Regions from separate parts of the Homo sapiens genome. Here region 2 is linked to region 1. A link means that fine-mapping ties the variant in region 1 to the expression of a gene that starts in the linked region. Tissue or cell type: nasal epithelium. Region 1 holds a variant in brackets; the other region holds the start of a gene. All regions are shown on one strand. Distances are from middle to middle.

The links. PIP is the estimated chance that this variant, and not a neighbour inherited with it, causes the effect.
Region 2: NIPA1 starts here. The variant in region 1 is fine-mapped to the expression of NIPA1 in nasal epithelium (TOPMed, PIP above 0.99).

Annotation. Positions count from the first base shown.
Region 1 is chr15:22,822,641-22,833,276 of GRCh38, forward strand. It overlaps NIPA1 (NIPA magnesium transporter 1), which reads left to right. Exons shown (of 5, transcript NM_144599.5): 5 at 1,088-7,149. The coding sequence ends at 1,599. Among named protein-coding and RNA genes, the nearest start is that of NIPA2, 11 kb to the right of the region's middle. RefSeq lists an enhancer at 4,249-5,001. The variant A/G (reference allele first, on the strand shown) is at 4,024.
Region 2 is chr15:22,782,114-22,791,431 of GRCh38, forward strand. NIPA1 (NIPA magnesium transporter 1) reads left to right here and starts at 4,531. Exons shown (of 5, transcript NM_144599.5): 1 at 4,531-4,721. The coding sequence starts at 4,544. RefSeq lists silencers at 4,203-4,436, 4,399-4,758, 4,829-4,978, 4,989-5,118 and an enhancer at 5,469-5,578.

The DNA of each region.
Region 1 (10,636 bases):
CAACATGGCGAAACCCCGTCTCTGCTAAAAATATAATAGCCAGGCGTGGTGGCGGGTGCTTATGTATTCCCAGCTACTCAGGAGGCTGAAGCAGGAGAATCGCTTGAACCTGGGAGGTGGAGGTTGCAGTGAGCAGAGATCGTGCTATTGCAATCCAGCCTGGGCAACAAAGAGCAAAACTCCATCTCAAAAAAACAAAACAAACAACAAGAAAAAAAGAGAATGGTTCCAATAGAGGACCATGTAAACATTTAGGAGCTGTAAATGGTTTTTTTTTTTTTTTTTTTTTTTTTTTTGAGACGGACTCTTGCTCTGTCGCCCAGGCTGGAGTGCAGTGGTGTGATCTCGGCTCACTGCAACCTCTGCCTCCCGGGTTCAAGCGATTCTCCTGCCTCAGCCTCCTGAGTAGCTGGGATTACTGGTGCATGCCACCACGCCTAGCTAATTTTTTGTATTTTTAGTGGAGAACAGGGTTTCACCAAGTTAGCCAGGATGGTATTGATCTCCTGATCGGCCCACCTCGGCCTCCCAAAGTGCTGGGATTACAGGTGTGAGCCATTGTGCCCTTCTGTAAATTTTTTTTTTTTTTTCTGAGATGGAGTCTTGCTCTGTCACCCAGGCTGGAGTACAGTGGTTTGATCTCGGCTCACTGCAACCTCCACCCCCTAGGTTCAAGTGATTCTCCTGCCTCAGCCTCCCAAGTAGCTGGGATTACAGGCGCGCTGTAATTTTTGTACTTTTAGTAGAGACGGGGTTTCACCATCTTGGCCAGGCTGGTCTTGAACTCCTGACCTCATGATCCACCTGCCTTGGCCCCCCAAAGTGCTGGGATTACAGGCATGAGCCACCGCGTCTGGCTAACCCGGCTGTAAATGTTTTAACAGTGAAAATGATGGGAATACTTTTGTGGAATGAAATCAGTGGGTCTGGTAAATTCAAGCCAGAGCCCACATGCTCCCCAGGGCTGTGCCGCAGTAGAGGCCGGTGGCGGGTGGCGGGTGGGGGCCCGGGTGCTGCCCCAGTCCACCTCCTGGGTTGCGGCTGCTAGGCGGTGGCTCCGGGTGACTGTGTGCTGTCTGTGTTCCAGTGTTTGTGGGCTACCTGTGCATCGTGCTGCTCATGCTGCTGCTGCTCATCTTCTGGATCGCGCCGGCCCATGGGCCCACCAACATCATGGTCTACATCAGCATCTGCTCCTTGCTGGGCAGTTTCACCGTGCCTTCCACCAAGGGCATCGGGCTGGCGGCCCAAGACATCTTGCATAACAACCCGTCCAGTCAGAGAGCCCTCTGCCTGTGCCTGGTACTCCTGGCCGTGCTCGGCTGCAGCATCATCGTCCAGTTCAGGTACATCAACAAGGCGCTGGAGTGCTTCGACTCCTCGGTGTTCGGGGCCATCTACTACGTCGTGTTTACCACGCTGGTCCTGCTGGCCTCAGCCATCCTCTTCCGGGAGTGGAGCAACGTGGGCCTGGTGGACTTCTTGGGGATGGCCTGTGGATTCACGACCGTCTCCGTGGGGATTGTCCTTATACAGGTGTTCAAAGAGTTCAATTTCAACCTTGGGGAGATGAACAAATCTAATATGAAAACAGACTAGATTGCAATAGGAGCTTGGATGGTTCGAGGAATAGGCATTGGAGGTGGTTTCTGGCCGTGATTGGATGTGAAGTAGAAGAGGTCCTCGATCATGGTGTTAGAATTGACTGGATAGTAACAGGTGGTCTGGTGGATAGCGGGGAGCATGGCTCAGCACCAGAGCAGAGGCCCAGCCAGCCCTCTGCAGCCCAAACGTCCCCAACGGTTGCCTGGCACCATCTCTCTCTGATGAGACGAATCTCATTTTCATTTCCATTAACCTGGAAGCTTTCATGAATATTCTCTTCTTTTAAAACATTTTAACATTATTTAAACAGAAAAAGATGGGCTCTTTCTGGTTAGTTGTTACATGATAGCAGAGATATTTTTACTTAGATTACTTTGGGAATGAGAGATTGTTGTCTTGAACTCTGGCACTGTACAGTGAATGTGTCTGTAGTTGTGTTAGTTTGCATTAAGCATGTATAACATTCAAGTATGTCATCCAAATAAGAGGCATATACATTGAATTGTTTTTAATCCTCTGACAAGTTGACTCTTCGACCCCCACCCCCACCCAAGACATTTTAATAGTAAATAGAGAGAGAGAGAAGAGTTAATGAACATGAGGTAGTGTTCCACTGGCAGGATGACTTTTCAATAGCTCAAATCAATTTCAGTGCCTTTATCACTTGAATTATTAACTTAATTTGACTCTTAATGTGTATATGTTCTTAGATTAGAATAATGCAACTTCGAGTATGCTTTAATATTTCAATATTCAAGTTACAAATGTATAAGGCAGTTAGAAATAATACAGTCACATGTCACTTAATGATAGGGAAACATTCTGAGAAATGCATTGTAAGGTGACTTTATTGTGTGAACATCATGGAGTGCACTTATACAAACCTAGATGGGACACCTATGACCCACCCAGGCCAGATGGTACAGCCTGTTGCTCCTGGGCCACACACCTGTACAGCATGTGACCGCACTGAATACCGCAGGCAATTGTAACACAGTGGTGAGTATTTGTGTTTACAAACATAGGAAAGGTACAGTAAAACTATGGTATTACAATGTTATGGGACCACCGTCATGTAAGTGGTATGTCTTTGACAGAAACATGGTTACGTGGTTCATGACTGTATATTCACTGGAAGATAGTCAAGACTAAAGACACATTAGAGCAAATTGACCCCTTTAACATGTGATTATTGTCCAATTAAAGACAGTTGATTTAAGTAGCATGAGGTATTATTTTATTTGTATTCGATCTGTGTTACCTGGGATCCAGTATCAAATATATCCACATTCTTTATCAGCAAGCATTCATGGCCATTCAGAAGAAATAAATTAGGTAACTTGATAATAAGGCTAAGTGGGAGAGTACCTGTTCAATAGCTCATATATCGAGTACCCTGTCATACAGGAACAAGTTAAAGGACACAATTGAGGTTAGGCTAGCTTCTACAAATTGCAATATGCAGTTTTTGAAAGATTTTCTAACAAAAAGCCAATAAATGTAGCCATCTCCTTGTTGTTTGCAATGGCAGAGCATCCTAGAGTTCCTCAGCTAACCTCTCATTATGTGTCTTAAATGCAAAAGAGCCATTAATTATGCCAGTATTTGAATCAAAGAGGTCATTCTCTGTCTATAGTGTTCCCATCCATGTGTTCCAAATGGGAGCATAGCATGAAGTGATGCACATATTTCACCACGGTATCATGTACTTCATGGCCAGTGTTTTATCTCAGCAGGGAACTACGCCAAGTTGAAAGATGGGGTTGGGTAAAGTAGATTAGGTGAAGTAGAACATAAAATTGAATAGTACCCAATTAAAGTTCCTCAGTAAGAAAAAAAATGTGTTTTTGTAGGCAAAAAGAACATTTCTAAAGTCTCAAGGAATAGCTTCCTAAAGTGTTGAGTAAAGAGGCTAAATAAAATGAGACTAGTTTAATATAGAGAGAAAAATACCTTTATGGAGTAAACGTGTACATGATGATCATGGGTTGTCAGTGATTTGTGAACTGAGAGCAGCAACAACATTATTTTTTAAAAATCTTAAATCCTCTCAATGGATGGTTAACAAATGCTCAAAGTCCATTACTCTTTTTATTGGCTCTTGCAGGTTTTGTGTTTTATCATCAGTGCTTTTAGAAATGCAGGCCTTAACTTACTGAACTGAACTTTCTGAAAACGTAATGTAGCAGTATCAATATACTTTTGGGCATAAAAATAGTTTCCTAGGTAAGGGGTGTGAGATATTCAAAGAATACATGTGGCTAACAAGTGTAATGAGAAAGTTCATGTGTCACATGAAAATGATCATGTTTGTGTTGCTACAGCTTTTGTGGGAAATTTAGTTTAAAGGCAGCTCTTGGTGTACCTTAGTATATTTTAATCCACAATTATACCATTGATACTGAGAGGTGATACCCG[A/G]TGATCTTCTCTATAATATTCTTAGAGTAAAACAAAATCTCAAAAGTATTAATAGCTCTTCTACCCTTGAAGGTGACTGGTCCTGGGACAGTTAGAATCTTTCAGGTTTACCTCTGTTCAGCAGATACTTCAGTAGGATACATAGCTTTTCTTCCAGTGAAACAAAGTTCATATCATCCATTGTTTTTCAAGCACGTGACACCAGCCTCAAAGTAAATGACATGACCAGTGGTTGAACAGTCTAATTTTCAAATTTAATATAGAGCATATAACTTCTGATTTGATAGTATTTATTTTAAAAAATTATGTTTTCATCATTCATTTGAAAATGAAAAAGCCCCAAAGTGAGAACTTTGGGGGAGGGCCTAGAACATGGATAGATCTCTTAGTGGTCTTTCCAAAAGTACATGTACTTGAAATATTTTCATTATCATACTATTCTTTGAAAAAAAAGATGCTTACTGTATACTTGTTTTCAAGCATCCTCTAAAATCAAAGGTTTTGATCACAATATGCAGATTTCTCTTGATAGATACTTAAATAGGCTATTTCTCTCCTCTTCTTGGGCAATGCCTTGTTTTCTCCTCTGAATATTTGCATTTGAAAGGATTGCTTCCTGTTCTGCTCATTGATCAAAGGTAGGGCCAATTAAGGATTCTAACCCTAACCCAGCACCACAAAGCCCCCCTGGAGCATCTTCCCGGCTGGCAGGACCATGCCATCTCTGTGGAGAAGGTGCTGGGGAGGGAAGTCCTTCCAGTGCCACATGGAGTGAGGCCCTGCCCATGCTGGGGACTTTGGGGAGGAATTTGGTATTCTGGTGGCCTTGCTCAGCTCTCATTGAGATCTTTTCCTATCAGAATGTTAGTGAATATACTTCGCAGCTCTTTGTTCAGCAATAAGGAATATTCTTTCAATTCCTGCTCTTCAAGCCAATTTACTACACCCAGTTGTCTTTCCAGAAGTTCATCCCAGCGGTAATATGTTGGTGTTTGTTCTTCTTTGGATTTCACATCTGTTTTCTGGTAGAAGTGAGCACTGTTCACTTGTGCAGTCGTCTTATTTTCCTTCTTCCTAGATGACTCAGCTCTTTGTAAATGTTGTGCTCAACTTCTAGGGGCCAGTTCTAGACTTTGGAGATGCAGTGTCTCCCAGGTGTGCACGGACACCTGGTCCGTGGAAACAGGTGTGATGGGCACAGGCTGCTGCCCTTCTGTCTGGTCGGGGGATTCCTCTTCTTCAAGCTGCTCAGCTAACCCAGAAGAGGGGAGAGAGTACTCCGGTGGTTCCCAGAGCCCCTCCCGTTGTGCCGCTTCGACCTGACACCTGCTCGATGCTGACTTAGGCTTCCTGCCACCAAGCAGGAAACTAGAAAGAGAACATTTCAGTGTAAGGTCTGTTCCCGACAGCATGGATTAGCTTCCGTGTTCTGAAGTTGTTCTTTTCATGGTGTCTGACACCGAGGGCGTTGTTCGTCCATCAGGCGGGATTGGATGGAGTCTTGGTGTTTTGCCTTCTCAGGGACCAAAAATGTATCATTGACTCCTTAACAGTGACCTTCCTCCCAAGGACATATCCGTGTTCATTTTTCATAGGTTTTACTCATATTCATAGGTAGATTCTGTTAATGTGAGTTGGAAAGAAAAGACCAATTTGTACACCAGTCACACCACAAGACAGTTTATCATATAAAATACCTCAATTTTTTGTATTCCTCATTTCCACCTCACAATTGTACTGGTGATGAATTTTAAGGGTCTGTCCTTTAGCTTATAGGTGATGTTTCACATCTGGCCAGATTCTTATACCTCCATTGTATACTTGAAAAGGTTCAGAATTACAGGAACAGCAGTGAGAATTTGGCCCACTACCACGACTCATTTGTTTCATTCACATTCCTCACGTGCAACAACATAATTATATTTTAAGAAAATGTAACTTTGTTACATCAAAATATGTTGTCTAGTAAAAAGTTGATATTCAGTAGAACAAGGATCATGTAAATAAACATCTATTTCACATGTACCCAAAAGCATTTAAAAAGCAGAATCCAGGGCCCAGAGCATGAGCCAGGGAGGAGGATGTTTTTCTTCTTTTCTCTATTTTTCCCTAAATTGTGCAAACATAGGTGAGTCTCTTAACCTTTCTGTGCCTCAGTTTTTCTACCTCTAAAGGGGTGGGATGGTTCTTCAAATTGTTTCTAAAACACCGGCACTTTCAGCAGTGTTCTGGTGGCCTGAGATGAGAGCACCGTGTTCAGAAGTGCCTGGGAGTGGCACAGTGGAAACTCCGCTTGCACGGACCATGGAGTCTGCTCAGGACCATGCTGTAGGACACACAGCCTCATGCGCTGAGAAAGCAAAGGAAGTGCTGGGTGTAAAGTTTGCATGATTCCATGAAGCTTTAGTTTTCCTTTTTTTGTTTTAAAAGAAAGGGTTTTATATGTTCTATTGTAAAATATGGAAATTAAACAGGGACTTCAGAAAGCCGCACAGAAAGATCACCTTCCGATGGTGTGATGTGCTCCTGACATTCGGCCGAGGTCTGTATTCTGAAAAAGATTTAATGGCCTGTGAAACACGTGGATTCTGTTGCACTGGATTTGTAATAAATGACGCTGAACTTCCTGCTTCCAAGCAGCTCAACCCTGATGCTGAACTGACACCAGGCGAATGTCAGGGCTCCCAAACCACTAGTGCCAAAGGGTCATGTTGAAAAGTTCAGAATATTTATTTGTCAGAATATAATAATTGCCCCCCACCTTAGTATTTTTGCACTTTACAGAAATTTAGATACTGTTTTTCAGTGGCTTGAGCGTTTTGCCTTTTCAAAGGATAACTATTATTTTCTTGAAAATGGAATATAATCATGAGAGGAAGAAGATGTAAAAAATGTCAAATGTTGATTGGTTGTGTAAAAGTTTTGTCATAGACATGTATTGGGGAGCTTCCAATTAGCATACATAGACACATGTGTCAGTGGCCAAGACCTGCTTATATTTTGCTTTATAGATGTAGTCATAGCATGTTGTTATTGCCTCATGTAAATAAAAAGGCTATTAAGTTTTCCAGTAATATTTATTAATCTGTATGTGTTTTAAAATAAAATAACTTATTTCTAGCTGAACATTTGTTGATTTTTTTTTTTCCCTTTACTTGAAATGCTTATGTAGTCTCAGGTTCCAGATCATCCCAGTTCCTCCCATTTTTCCTATTCTCTTTTTAGAAATGAGTAGCCTAGGCTGGGTGCAGTGGCTCATGCCTGTAATCGCAGCACTTTAGGGGGCTGAGGCGGGTGGGACACTTGAGGCCAGGAGTTTGAGACCAGCCTGGTCAACATGGTAAAACCCCATCTCTACTAAAAAATAACAAAAATTAGACAGGCATGGTGGTGCACATCTGTAGTCCCAGGTACTCAGCAGGCTGAAGCAGGAGAATCACTTGAACTTGGGAGGCAGAGGTTGCAGTGACCGAGATCACAGCACTGCACTCCAGCCTGGACAACAGAGCGAGACTCCATCTCAAAAAAAAAAAAGACAGAAATGACTAGCCTCTAGATCTCTATAACAATGTAGAAAATGTCTACCTGTGGGCCAGGTGTGGTGGCTCACACCTGTAATCCCAGTGCTTTGGGAGGCTGAGGCGGGCGGATCACCTGAGGTCGGGAGTTTGAGAGTAGCCTGACCAACATGGAGAAACCCTGTCTCTGCTAAAAATACAAAATTAGCCAGAGGTGGTGGTGCATGCCTGTAATCCCAGCTACTCAGGAGGCCGAGGCAGGAGAATCACTTGAACCTGAGAGGCAGAGGTTGCAGTGAGCCGAGATCACACCATTGCACTCCAGCCTGGGCAACAAGAGCAAAACTCCGTCTCAAAAACAAAACAAAACAAAACAAAAAAGGCCAGGTGCGGTGGCTCACGCCTATAATCCCAGCACTTCAGGAGGCCAAGGCAGGCAGATCACGAGGTCAGGAGTTCGAGACCAGCCTGGCCAACATGGTGAAACCCCGTCTCTACTAAAAATACAAAAATTAGTTGTGCGTGGTGGTGTGTGCCTGTAATCCCAGCTACTCCAGAGGCTGAGGCAGGAGAATCACTTAAACCCGGGAGGTGGAGGTTGCAGGGAGCCGAGATCGTGCCACTGCACTCTAGCCTGGACGACAAGAGCGAAACTCCGTCTTGGAAAAAAAAAGAAAAAGAAAAAGAAACCGTCTACCTGTGCATCTACCTTAGGGAGCAAATCCATGATGTATGCAGAAATTCCCTGTCCTGCGACTGTCTCTTGATCCAATGAAGTGATAGTATTAAATAAAACCAGCTCTATTTTAATATGTTAGTACCTTTGACATGTTTTTGAGTTGTATAACATATCATTTTACATTTTTAGCCCATAGAAAATGAGACAATTATAACGCATTTTCATACTTCAAGCATCATTAGAAATCTTGTTGCTGATCTTCTTTAGTGTCCTATAATTTTCTTTGTTTTGGTTTTTTTTTTTTTTTTTGAGAGACAGGGTCTCACTCTCTTACAGTCATAGCTCACTGCAGCCTCAAACTGCTGGGCTCAAGCGACCCTCCTGCGTCAGCCTCCCCGGTAGCTAGGACTACAGGCCTGTGCCTCCACACCTGGGTAATTTTTTAATTTTTTTGTAGAGACAGGGTCTAGTTATGTTGCTCAGACTGGTGTCCTATAAGTTATTTTATCAAATGAGAAAAAATGAGTAAGATTTTTTTCTTAGTCTCTATCCCAAAAGATTTAATTATTCACATTTTGATCAAAGTATACTTATACAGAAAACAAGAACAAACATTTTATGAAATCACCAAATGCATCTATGGATAACTCCAGATAGGTTTTTGGGGCTGTGAAGTGTATTAATGCCAAATTCTGCTGTCATTGAACAAAAGCTTGCATTGGTTGGTTACTACTATAGAGTAGTTTGTGCTGGCTGCTAGCCAAGCCTTCCCTGCAAGGGACTTGTTCTAGAATTTCTGTGTTGCTTAGTTACATCCATCCCATCCATCTGATGACCCTTCGTTTTGACATTGTCAGCATGTTTGTTGTAGTATTAGTCACACTTACTTGTTCACCATTAGTTTGAATCTCACATGATAGTTTTAAAAAGGTTTTTAGTTGGAGAGGTGAGACACAGACAAGAAACAGATATAAAAGATCTAGGTACCTCTGCAGCCAGGCACAGTGGCTCACGCCTGTAATCCCAGCACTTTCGGAGGCCAAGGCCGGTGGATTACCTGAGGTCAGGGGTTTGAGACCAGCCTGACCAACATGGAGAAACCCCCGTCTCTACTAAAAATACATAATTAGCTGAGCGTGGTGGTGCACGCCTGTAATCCCAGCTATTCGGGAGGCTGAGGCAGGAGAATTGCTTGAACCCGGGAGGCAGAGGTTGCGGTGAGCTGAGATCACGCCACTGCACTCCAGCCTGGGCAGCAAGAGCGAAACTCCGTCTAAAAAAAAAAAGATCTAGGTACCTCTCTATTACCAGTCCAAAGAGGACAGGATTCATTCCAGCCGAGCACATGAGAAAGAGGTGTGGAACTGGATGGTGGCAAGCAGGACAGCGGTGGTGGTGACCAAGTAAACATAATGAGTGTGAAAATCACTGAGATGATGGACCAGAGGGTGGAGAGAAGGTCAGACCAGGTTGCTCATCTATAACACTGAATCTGTTTTATTTTTGACAAAGACATTGGGGGGATCCCAGCATCTTCTCCTTCCCTTAATTTGGCATACTTATTGTGTTAGTTTTTTATTACGGCTCTTCACAAGTTACATACCTTGTAGCTTAAAACAACACACGCGTATCATCTTACAATTCTGGAGGTTAGAAGTTCCACACAAGCTTTGCTGGGCTAAAATCAAGGTGCAGACAGGATTACTTCCCTCTGGAGGCTCCTGGGAAGAGTCTCATCCCTGCTCTTTTGGTTTCTAGAGGCCGCCTTTGTATCTTGCCTCGTGGCTCCTTCCTCCATCTTTGAAGCCAGCAATGTCATCTCTCTCGCCACTCATCCATCATCATAGCTTACTCTCTGACTCTGACACTCCTGTCACCCTCTTGGAAGGACCTTCATGACTGCTTTGGGCCCACATGGACAATCCAGGGTCAGCTCCCTCTCTCAAGATCCTTAGTTGCCTCTGCAGAGCCCCTTTTGCCATGGAAGGTGGCACAGTCACAGGTTACAAGGTGAGGACGTGGATATCTTTGGGCTTTCTGCTTACCACATCCACTTACCATTTTACCAAGTGAGGCAGTTCACAAAAGCCAACTCCTGGCTTTTAATCACTATCCCACTGTTCTACCTCAATTCACCTTGAGTTATTCCTATATTTTTCAGAAAGTTTCTCCCTGCTCACCCCCAACAAATGTTTTGGAAAATGCCCTACTACATTTGTAGGTCATTGATGGCCTTGAATAAACCAAATAATATTAATTGAAAAGTATTCATATAATAGAAATGCTTTAAAATGGCAGGGAATTATTGGGGAACCTGCCCCGATAGTCACGTAGGTTCTTTTCTATTTTCCCTAAGCATCAGCCGGTTTGAGAAATAAAGGGACAGAGTACAAAAGGGAGAAATTTTAAAGCTGGG
Region 2 (9,318 bases), 41 kb before region 1:
AAGCCAAAAAGAAAAAGAAAATGCACATGGGGAACAGGAGAGGAGAGCAGAGGCCACAGTGTGGAGGCCTGGGCTGATACACTGCAAAGAGATCTTTGGGGCTCCGAAGAGATCTTTGAGGCTCCAGGTCTCATGAGTGGGGGCCAGGCTCCCTAGAGAAACCCTTCTTGTCTAGGGCTGGGGAGCCCACCAGAGTGACCCAATCAGTTCTCAGGGCCTGTGATGGGGCCACATGGTTTTGAGAAGCCGGTGTTCAGCTCCATCCTAAAGAGCACTCATGCACGTTGGGGAGGAGGGCCGGGGTGCACAGCTCTGACCTGAGTCAGACCCACCTCAGGACTGAGCCCAGCAGAAGGAGGCCCAGAGTCACTGACCATAAAAGGAGCAGATGCCCTCCCCCGTGTTGGTTGAGATGAGTCTTGGGCATTAACTCTAATAATTTCTAACTGCACCCAGAAATACTGATTCACACAGCAACTAGTAAATAATAGCCTTTTAGAGCTAAAAAAAAAAAAGCCTTGTATGGTTTATTATGAATTAACATATGCATTTTACACAAACTAGAGGCACCGTGGTGGGCCAGCAGCAGCCTGTTAGGGGCCACAGCAAGGAGACTGGATTTCCTCAAGTGCAATGGGAGTTACTGGCTAGGCTTTAAGGTTTTAGCCACAGGAAAGATGAATGTATTTCAGAGCAACGTGGGTGGATTCAAAATGAGGTTTAGAACTAGATCCATTAAATTTTTTTTTTTTTTTAGACGGAGTCTGACTCTTATTGCCCAGGCTGGAGTGCAGTGGTGCTATCTCGGCTCACTGCAACCTCTGCCACCCAGGTTCAAGGGATTCTCCTACCTCAGCCTCCCGAGTAGCTGGGATTACAGGCACCTGCCATTGTGTCTGGCTAATTTTTGTATTTTTAGTAGAGACGGGGTTTCACCATCTTGGCCAGGCTGGTCTTCAACTCCTGACCTCATGATCCACCCACCTTGGCCTCCCAAACTGCTGAATTTTTTATCTGAAAAATCTCCCACCGGGCGCGGTGGCTCACGCCTGTAATCCCAGCACTTTGGGAGGCCAAGGCGGGCACATCATGAGGTCAGGAGATCGAGACCATCCTGGCAAACGCAGTGAAACCCCATCTCTACTAAAAACATAAAAAATTAGCCAGGCATGGTGGCGGGTGCTTGTAGTCCCAGCTACTTGGGAGGCTGAGGCAGGAGAATGGCGTGAATCCGGGAGGTGGAGCTTGCAGTGAGCCAAGATCGCGCCACTGCACTCCAGCCTGGGCAACAGAGCGAGACTCCATCTCAAAAAAAAAAAAAAAGAAAAGAAAAGAAAAGAAAAAAAAGAAAAATCTCCCCTCTCCAAAAATCTCCCGGCATTTCTACAGAAGTCTCTACCTAGGTAAGGAGAAGAAACAATTCTTGGCCGGGTACAGTGGCTCACGCCTGTAATCCCAGCACTTTGGGAGGCCGAAGCTGGTGGATCACGAAGTCAGTAGTTCAAGACCAGCCTGGCCGAGATGGTGAAACCCTGTCTCTACTAAAAATACAAAAAAATTCGCCAGGCGTGGTGGCAGGCGTCTGTAATCCCAGCTACTTGGGAGGCTGAAGCAGAGAATTGGTTGAACCCATGAAGCGTAGGTTGCAGTGAGCCAAGATCACGCCACTGCACTCCAGCCTGGGTGACAGAGCAAGACTCCATCTCAAAACATAAGACGAAAAAAAAATTTTTTAGGGAGCTGAAAAGTGAACTGATTTCCTCATTTCTCCTTGCAAGGAATCAATTGATAGCCCAAAATTGAAACCCAGAGTTAAAATAAACGTAACTCCCACCCTCTTAGTGTTTCTCACTTTTTTTTTTTTTTTTTTGAGACAGGGTCTCACTTCTGTTGCCCAGGCTGGAGTGCAGTGGCGTGATCATGGCTCACTGTAGCCTCAACTTCTGGGGTCAAGTGATCCTCCCATAGCCTCCTGAGTAGCTGGGACTACAAGCACATGTCACCATGCCTGGCTAATTTTTGTATTTTTTTGCAGAGATGGGGTTTCATCATGTTGCCCAGGCTGATCTCAAACTCCTGGGCTCAAGTGATCTGCTGGCCTTGGCCTCCCAAAGTACTGGGATTATAGGCATGAGCCACTGTACCTGGCCTACTAACTTTAATTTTAGGTGTATCTTTTAGGAAGTAATATCTCATGGCAAAATAATGTTTGTCATTCAGTAGTTACTGTAGTTTCATTTCAGTTTTTCTTTTGTTAAATTCAAGCAAAATATAGTTTTATGTTTTTAATTAAAATCCCATATGTGTTTCCCCATCAGATAAAATATGCCTGTCATTTAACCTATGTACTCACATGGAAAAATGTCTGGGGTGGAGTTCTTTTTTTTTTCTTTTTTTTTTTGAGACGGAGTCTCACTCCGTCGCCCAGGCTGGAGTGCAGTGGTGCCATCTCGGCTCACTGCAAGCTCCGCCTCCCGGGTTCACGCCATTCTCCTGCCTCAGCCTCCTGAGTAGCTGGGACTACAGGCGCCCTCCACCATGCCCGGCTAATTTTTTGTATTTTTAGTAGAGACCGGGTTTCATCGTGTTAGCTAGGATGGTCTCGATCTCTTGACCTCCTGATCCATCCACCTGACCTCCGGATCCGTCCGCCTCCGCCTCCCAAAGTGCTGGGATTACAGTCATGAGCCACCTCCCCGGCCCTATTTTATATTTCTTCACAAAATAATAATGCTGTATGCAAAGCTGCCAAAAGGTTTATACTTTTCGTTTGTTTTTGAGACAATCTTGCTCTGTTGCCCAGGCTGGAGTGCAGTGGTGCAATAACAGCTCACTGCAACCTCCACCTCAAGCCATCCTCCCACCTCTGCCTCCAGAGTATCTGGGGTTGGAGGTAAAAGCCACCACGCCCCGCTAATTAATTTTTTTCTTTTTTTGGTAGAGACGGGTCTCGCTACGTTGCCCAGGCTGGTCTTGAACGTCTGAGCTCAAGCGAGCCTCCCACCTCGGTCCCCAAAGTGCTGGGATTATAGGTGTGAGCCACTGTGCCCAGCTTGTAGCATCGTTTATAGACAACAAAACCTGGCAGCAACCGGCCAGGCGCGGTGGTTCACGCCTGTAATCCCAGCACTTTGGGAGGTAGAGCGGACGGATCACCTGAGGTCAGGAGTTCAAGACCAGCCTTGCCAAGATGGTGAAACCGCGTCTCTACTCAAAATACAAAAATTAACCCGGGCGTGGTGGCGGACGCCTGTAATTCTAGATACTCGGAGGCTGAGGCCGAGAATCGCTTGAATCCGGGAGGCGGAAGGTTGCAGTGAGCCGAGATCGCGCCATTGCACTCCAGCCTGGGCGACAGAGCGAGACTCTGTCTCAAAAAAACAAACCAACCTGGTAGCTACCTAACACCCAACAATGGCTGAATGGTTAGACAAATTATTATACTGTCATTAGAATAATCATATTTATGTACCGATACAGAAACTGATATATATTAAATAAAAAGGAAATTTCGTATATTGTAATTGGAAACATGTAAAAGTATGTATACATTATGGGAAAACACCTAAAATACTAATAATTAGGTGAGGGTTGTGGAATTGAGTCACTTTAAAAAATATTTTTTTCCAAAAAAAATAAAATAACTTTTTCCTATTTTTCAAGCTTGTAATTTTGTTGTTGTTTCTTTTTTTTTTTTTTTTTGAGACGGAGTCTCGCTCTGTCGCCCAGGCTCGAGTGCAGTTGTGTGATCTCCGCTCACTGCAAGCTCTGCCTCCCGGGTTCACACCCTTCTCCTGGCTCAGCCTCCCGAGTAGCTGGGACTACAGGCCTCCGCCACGACGCCCAGCTAATTTTTTGTATTTTTAGTAGAGACGGGGTTTCACTGTGTTAGCCAGGATGGTCTCGATCTCCTGACCTTGTGATCCACCCGCCTCGGCCTCCCGAAGTGCTGGGATTACAGGCGTGAGCCACCGCGCCCGGCTTGTTGTAGTTTATTAAAACGAGGAAACTAGACTATGGGATCACAAGCCCAGAGCCCCATGTAGCTGACTCTAGCGCCAAGGGCGGAAGAGAAACGCCCAGCGCCAGGGCTCTCCTTCGATCTCTGCAGCGGCGCGCCGGGCTTCGCGCTCCGGTGAGTTGGGCCGGCCTCCGCTGGAGGCTCTTCGGGGACCGCTGCCCGCCGGTGCGTCCTGCCGCGCTCCGCTGCCCGGATATTGCAGAGGACACCACTCAGAAAGTATGCGTGTTTCTCCGCGCTGGAAACTTAACCAGGAGTCCTGCATTTCCATTTGCGAAATCCGGGAACCCCCGCCCCACCCAGCGCCTCACCGGCCCCTCACTGCCGCCGCGTCCGGCGCCACTGCTGTCCCCGCAGCCTAAGGCGCCGGTCCCTGGCACCCCCGTCCCGCCCCCGCCCCTCTTCCTGCTCCTCCCCCACCCGTCCCCCTCCCCTCCCCCGCCCGCGCCTCCCGGTCACCCCCCATCCCGCCCCGCGGGGCGCGGCGCGCAGGCGCAGGCTCGGAGGGCGGGCGCGGGCGGAATGGGGACTGCAGCTGCGGCAGCGGCGGCGGCGGCGGCGGCGGCGGCCGGGGAGGGGGCGCGTAGCCCGAGCCCCGCCGCCGTGTCGCTCGGCCTGGGCGTGGCCGTCGTGTCGAGCCTGGTGAACGGGTCCACGTTCGTGCTACAGAAGAAGGGCATCGTGCGTGCCAAGCGGCGAGGTAGGGCGGGCGGCAGGCGGCAGGCGGCGGGCGGGTGGGGGAGGCGGGCGGCGGAGAAGGCGGTCGCAGGTGGGGGCGCCCGGGTCGGGGCAGGGGACGGGGTCGGGGCCCGGGCCCAGGTTGGGGGAAGGCTGCGCGGGCGGGTGCTCCCCGCGGCGTGCCCAGGCTGCCGCCGCGTCCTGGCGCTCGGGCCCGGGAGCGGCCCAGGAATCACAGGTGCGTCCTGAGCGTCCGGCGCTTCGCCGACGCCACGGCTTTTCTCCGTTCTCAGCGGCTGGAGCGGCTTGCTTTGGTGTGCGGGCTTCCCCGGCTGACTTTTTCCCTCGGTCCAAGACCTGCCCCGCGCCGCCCGGCAGCCCTCGCCGTGGCCCGCAACCCGCGGCCGGGAGCCTCCTGCGGACGCGGTGCTGGGGTGCTCGAGCCCAGCGCCCGCCTGGAAGCGCCGCTTCAGCCGATGCGCGGCCCGCTCCTAGGGTACGCTCGGTAGAGCAAGACCTGGGATTTCCAGTCCCCCGCAGGGGCCTCGCTGGTGCAAAAGGAAGACCCGGGCGGGCTCTCAGGGCTGTGCGTTCCTGGGGTGCTCTTACGGAGCCCGCTGCGCCTTAGACCTGCACCAAATGAATACAAGTGATCTTCAGTTTGGAGAACACGCGCGGCAGATCCAAAACCAAGCCCTGGACGGGCCAAGGCCACTTCCCAGGTGGATGTGCCGCAGCACCGCACTCCGTAGTGCTCTGCGGGGTAGAGCTCTCTGTCAGTGTCGTTTGTGCTGGGAGGCCCCGGACGGGACCGGTTTGCCAATGCAGGATATGGCAGGCTGTGAAACAGTCCGTTTCCATTGCTTCCAGAGGGACTGAGAAAGTCTTGTGGTTCTTGGCCATACTCTTAGAAGAAGAATATTAAGAGCTCTCTGGGAAGGATGTGGCCCCCGACTCTTGGGTTGTGAGAGAAAGTGAACTCGTAATTTACATGGCGGAATGCAGGTGAAACTTTCTCTGAGTGAGCCAGGCGTTGGCTTCAGAGAAGAGATAAAGGGCCCGACAGTCTCGAATGAAAATATAAAATCATGGATAATTTAAGGAATTTAGCTTTAAAGTGAAAGCATAGTGGTCTCCCATACAATTTAAATAGAATTAAATAAAACCAAGTATGATTTTCCAAGGATGCAGATGTGTCTGTCTCTAAGGCACACAGATACACACACACCGCAGCCACACTTCAGGGAGCATCTGTCCGTGTGACAGGCCCCAGGACTGGGTGAGATGGTCAACGCGCGTGACCTTATAAATAGGATGGCCTGAGAAAGCACCTCACCTCCCCAATCCACGGCCCTAGCGTAAGCATGAGGAAAACACCACACAAACCGGAGTAGAAGAACATCTTGCGGCCGGGCGCGGTGGCTGGTGCCTGTAGTCCCAGCACTTTGGGAGGCCGAGGCGGGCGGGTCACAAGGTCAGGAGATCTAGACCATCCTGGCTAACACGACGAAACCCCATCTCTACTAAAAATACAAAAAATTATCCCGGTGTGGTGGCACGCACCTGTAGTACCAGCTACTCGAGAGGCTGAGGCAGGAGAGTCTCTTGAACCCGGGAGACAGAGGTTGCAGTGAGCCGGGATCCGCCACTGCACTCAGCCTGGGCGGCAGAGCAAGACTCCATCTCAAAAAAAAAAAAAAAAATCTTGCAGTACACCTGACCAGTCCTCTGTGAAGGTCATGGAATCTGAAAGCACGTCACAACCAGGAGGAGCCTAAGAACACGTGAACACCAGATGTAAGACATTAGGGAAAAACGAAGGAAAGCTGAATACCAGCTTTAGTTAGTTTTCTAAAAAGTTGAGGAAAACTGTGTTATTTCAACCCAGGTCATGTGGCTCAAAGGAATTGGTGAATAGGAAAATAAACAAGCGAGTAGCCTTTTAAAAAAAACATGATAAGCTGGGTGCAGTGGCTCACACCTGTAATCCCAGCTACTCGGGAGGCTGAGGCAGGAGAATTGCTTGAACCCAGGAGGGGGAGGTTGCAGTGAGCCAAAATTGTGCCATTGCACTCCAGCCCGAGCGAGAAGAACAAGGCTCTGTCTTAAAAAAAAAAAAAAAAAAGATAAATGCTGTTTCTTATACCTATATACTATGCTTTCATTCATTTATTTATTTTTTATTATGATTTTTTTTTGAGACGGAGTTTCGCTCTTGTTGCCCAGGCTGGAGTGCAATGGCGCGATCTTGGCTCACTGAACCTCTGCCTCCCGGGTTCAAGCGATTCGCCTGCCACAGCCTCCCGAGCTGGGATTACAGGCGCGTGCCACCATATCTGGCTAATTTTGTGCTTTTACTGGAGATGGGGTTTCATCATGTTGGCCAGGATGGTCCCGAACTCCAGACCTCAGGTGATCTGCCCACCTCAGTCTCCCAAAATGCTGGGATTACAGGCGTGAGCCACCAACACTCGGCCTATATTATGGTTTTAAATTGATCAAAGTGAACTTGTGATTTTCATTATTTATTTTAAGCCCCAGACATTGCATGGTGTTAGGCTTTAGCTCTATGACTCTTCAGAGCCTCCCGTCCAGGAGGCCATTAGCACCTCAGTTCTTCCCGGTCTGGACCCAAGGTCCTTTCCATCCCTGTGAGCCACCCATCAAGGTGAGCTGAGAGACCAGCCGGCGGGGCAGAGTCACTTACGGCTGAGAGGAATTGTTTTGGGATTTGGTTAGTAAGTAGGAGAGAAAAGGAGAAGAAAACTTGTATGGGGGTTGAGCACCTCCCGCCGAAGAAGGCGAGGGAGGCATGGAGGTGTCTTACACTAGGGAACATTTCCGAGTCATGTGGCACCAAAGTATGTTACCAGTGGGGAATCCATGTGGGACTGCAACAACCTCAATTCTTGCTTCCTCAGAAGAAAGAATTTGGCTGAGGGGCACAAAGCAGAAGGAGACCTAGGCAAGGTTTAGAGCAGGAATGAAAGTTTTTTTTTGGAGATGGAGTCTAGCTCTGTCACCCAGGCTGGAGTGCAGTGGCGCGATCTTGGCTCATTGCAGCCCCCGCCTCCTAGGCTCAAGCAATTCTCCTGTCTTAGGCTCCTGAGTAGCTGGGATTACAGGTACACGCTACCATGTCCAGCTAATTTTTGTATTTTAGCAGAGACGGGGTTTCACCATGTTGGCCAGGCTGGTATTGAACTCCTGACCTCAGATGATCTGCCCACCTTGGCCTCCCAAAGTGGTGGGATTACAGGTCTGAGCCACCATGCCCTGTCAAAAGTTTATTTAAAAGCTTTAGAACAGGAATGAAAGGAAGTAAAGTAGACTTTGAAGAGGGCCAAGCTGGCAACTTGAGAGATCAGAGGCCTTCATTAATTTCATACTTCCCCAGTGACCACCCAGTGCCACTGATTCAGGCTAGCTGTGTTACTCATGGTGGTAGAAGATAGACATAGAGTCTTGTTTCAATGTCTGCTTTGATTTGTTCAACAGATACTGATGAAGCTTTTTTTGTTTTTGTTTTGTTTTTGAGATGGAGTCTTGCTCTGTCACCAGTCTCGATCTCCTGACCTTGTGATCCTCCCGCCTCGGCCTCCCAAAGTGCTTTTTTTTTTTTTTTTGAGACGGAGTTTTGCTTTTGTTGCCCAGGCTGGAGTGCAATGGTGCAATCTCACTGCAACTTCCACCTCCCGGGTTCAAGCGATTCTCCTGCCTCAGCCTCCCGAGTAGTTGGGTTATAGGCATGCACCACCACGCCTGGCTAATTTTGTGTTTTTAGTAGAGACAGGTTTCTCCATATTGGTCAGGCTGGTCTCGAACTTCCAAACTCAGGTGATCCACCCACCTTGACCTCCCAAAGTGCTGGGATTACAGGCGTGAGCCACCATGCTTGGCCTTGATGAAGCTCTTGTAATGCACCAGGCATTGTGTAGGTGTTGAGAATACAGCAGTTTTAAAATCTACTCGCCATAAAATCCTTTCCTACATCTGTTGCAAGCAGCAGAATTGACCAGTATGAAATGACAGAAATAGAGGATGAGGGAGGAGAGGGGAGATACGCAAGCACCAGAGAATGAAGTTCTTGCTTTAAGGGAGACCTAGCGTGACGTTCCTTATGCTGGAAAAAGTTGTGTCTTACTGAAATTTTAAGCTTTAAAAATTTTTTAAATTTTTGGATGGATTTAGGGGTACAAATGCAGTTATGTTATATGGTTATATTGCACAGTGGTGAAGTCTGGGCTTTTAATGTAACATCACCTGAATATAATATTTCATCGCTCCCACCCTTCCCTTCAGGTTAACCCAGCTAGCCTGTATCAGTGGCACTGGGTGGTCACTGGCGAAGTATGAAATTAATGAAGGCACTTGATCTCTCAAGTTGCCCGCTTGGCCCTCTTCCAAGTCTACTTTACTTCCTTTCATTCCTGTTCATTTGGAGTTTCCAATGTCTGTTATTCCACTCTGTATGTCTGAAAGTCAAAAACCGCATGTTCTCACTTACAAGTGGAAGCTAAACAATGAAAGTTTAAACTCTAAATGAATTGCCAGGTGGTAGCATTTCTAGATTTGAGATTCTAGATAGTCTCATCTTCAGGGGAGTCAAGTTCTGGTGA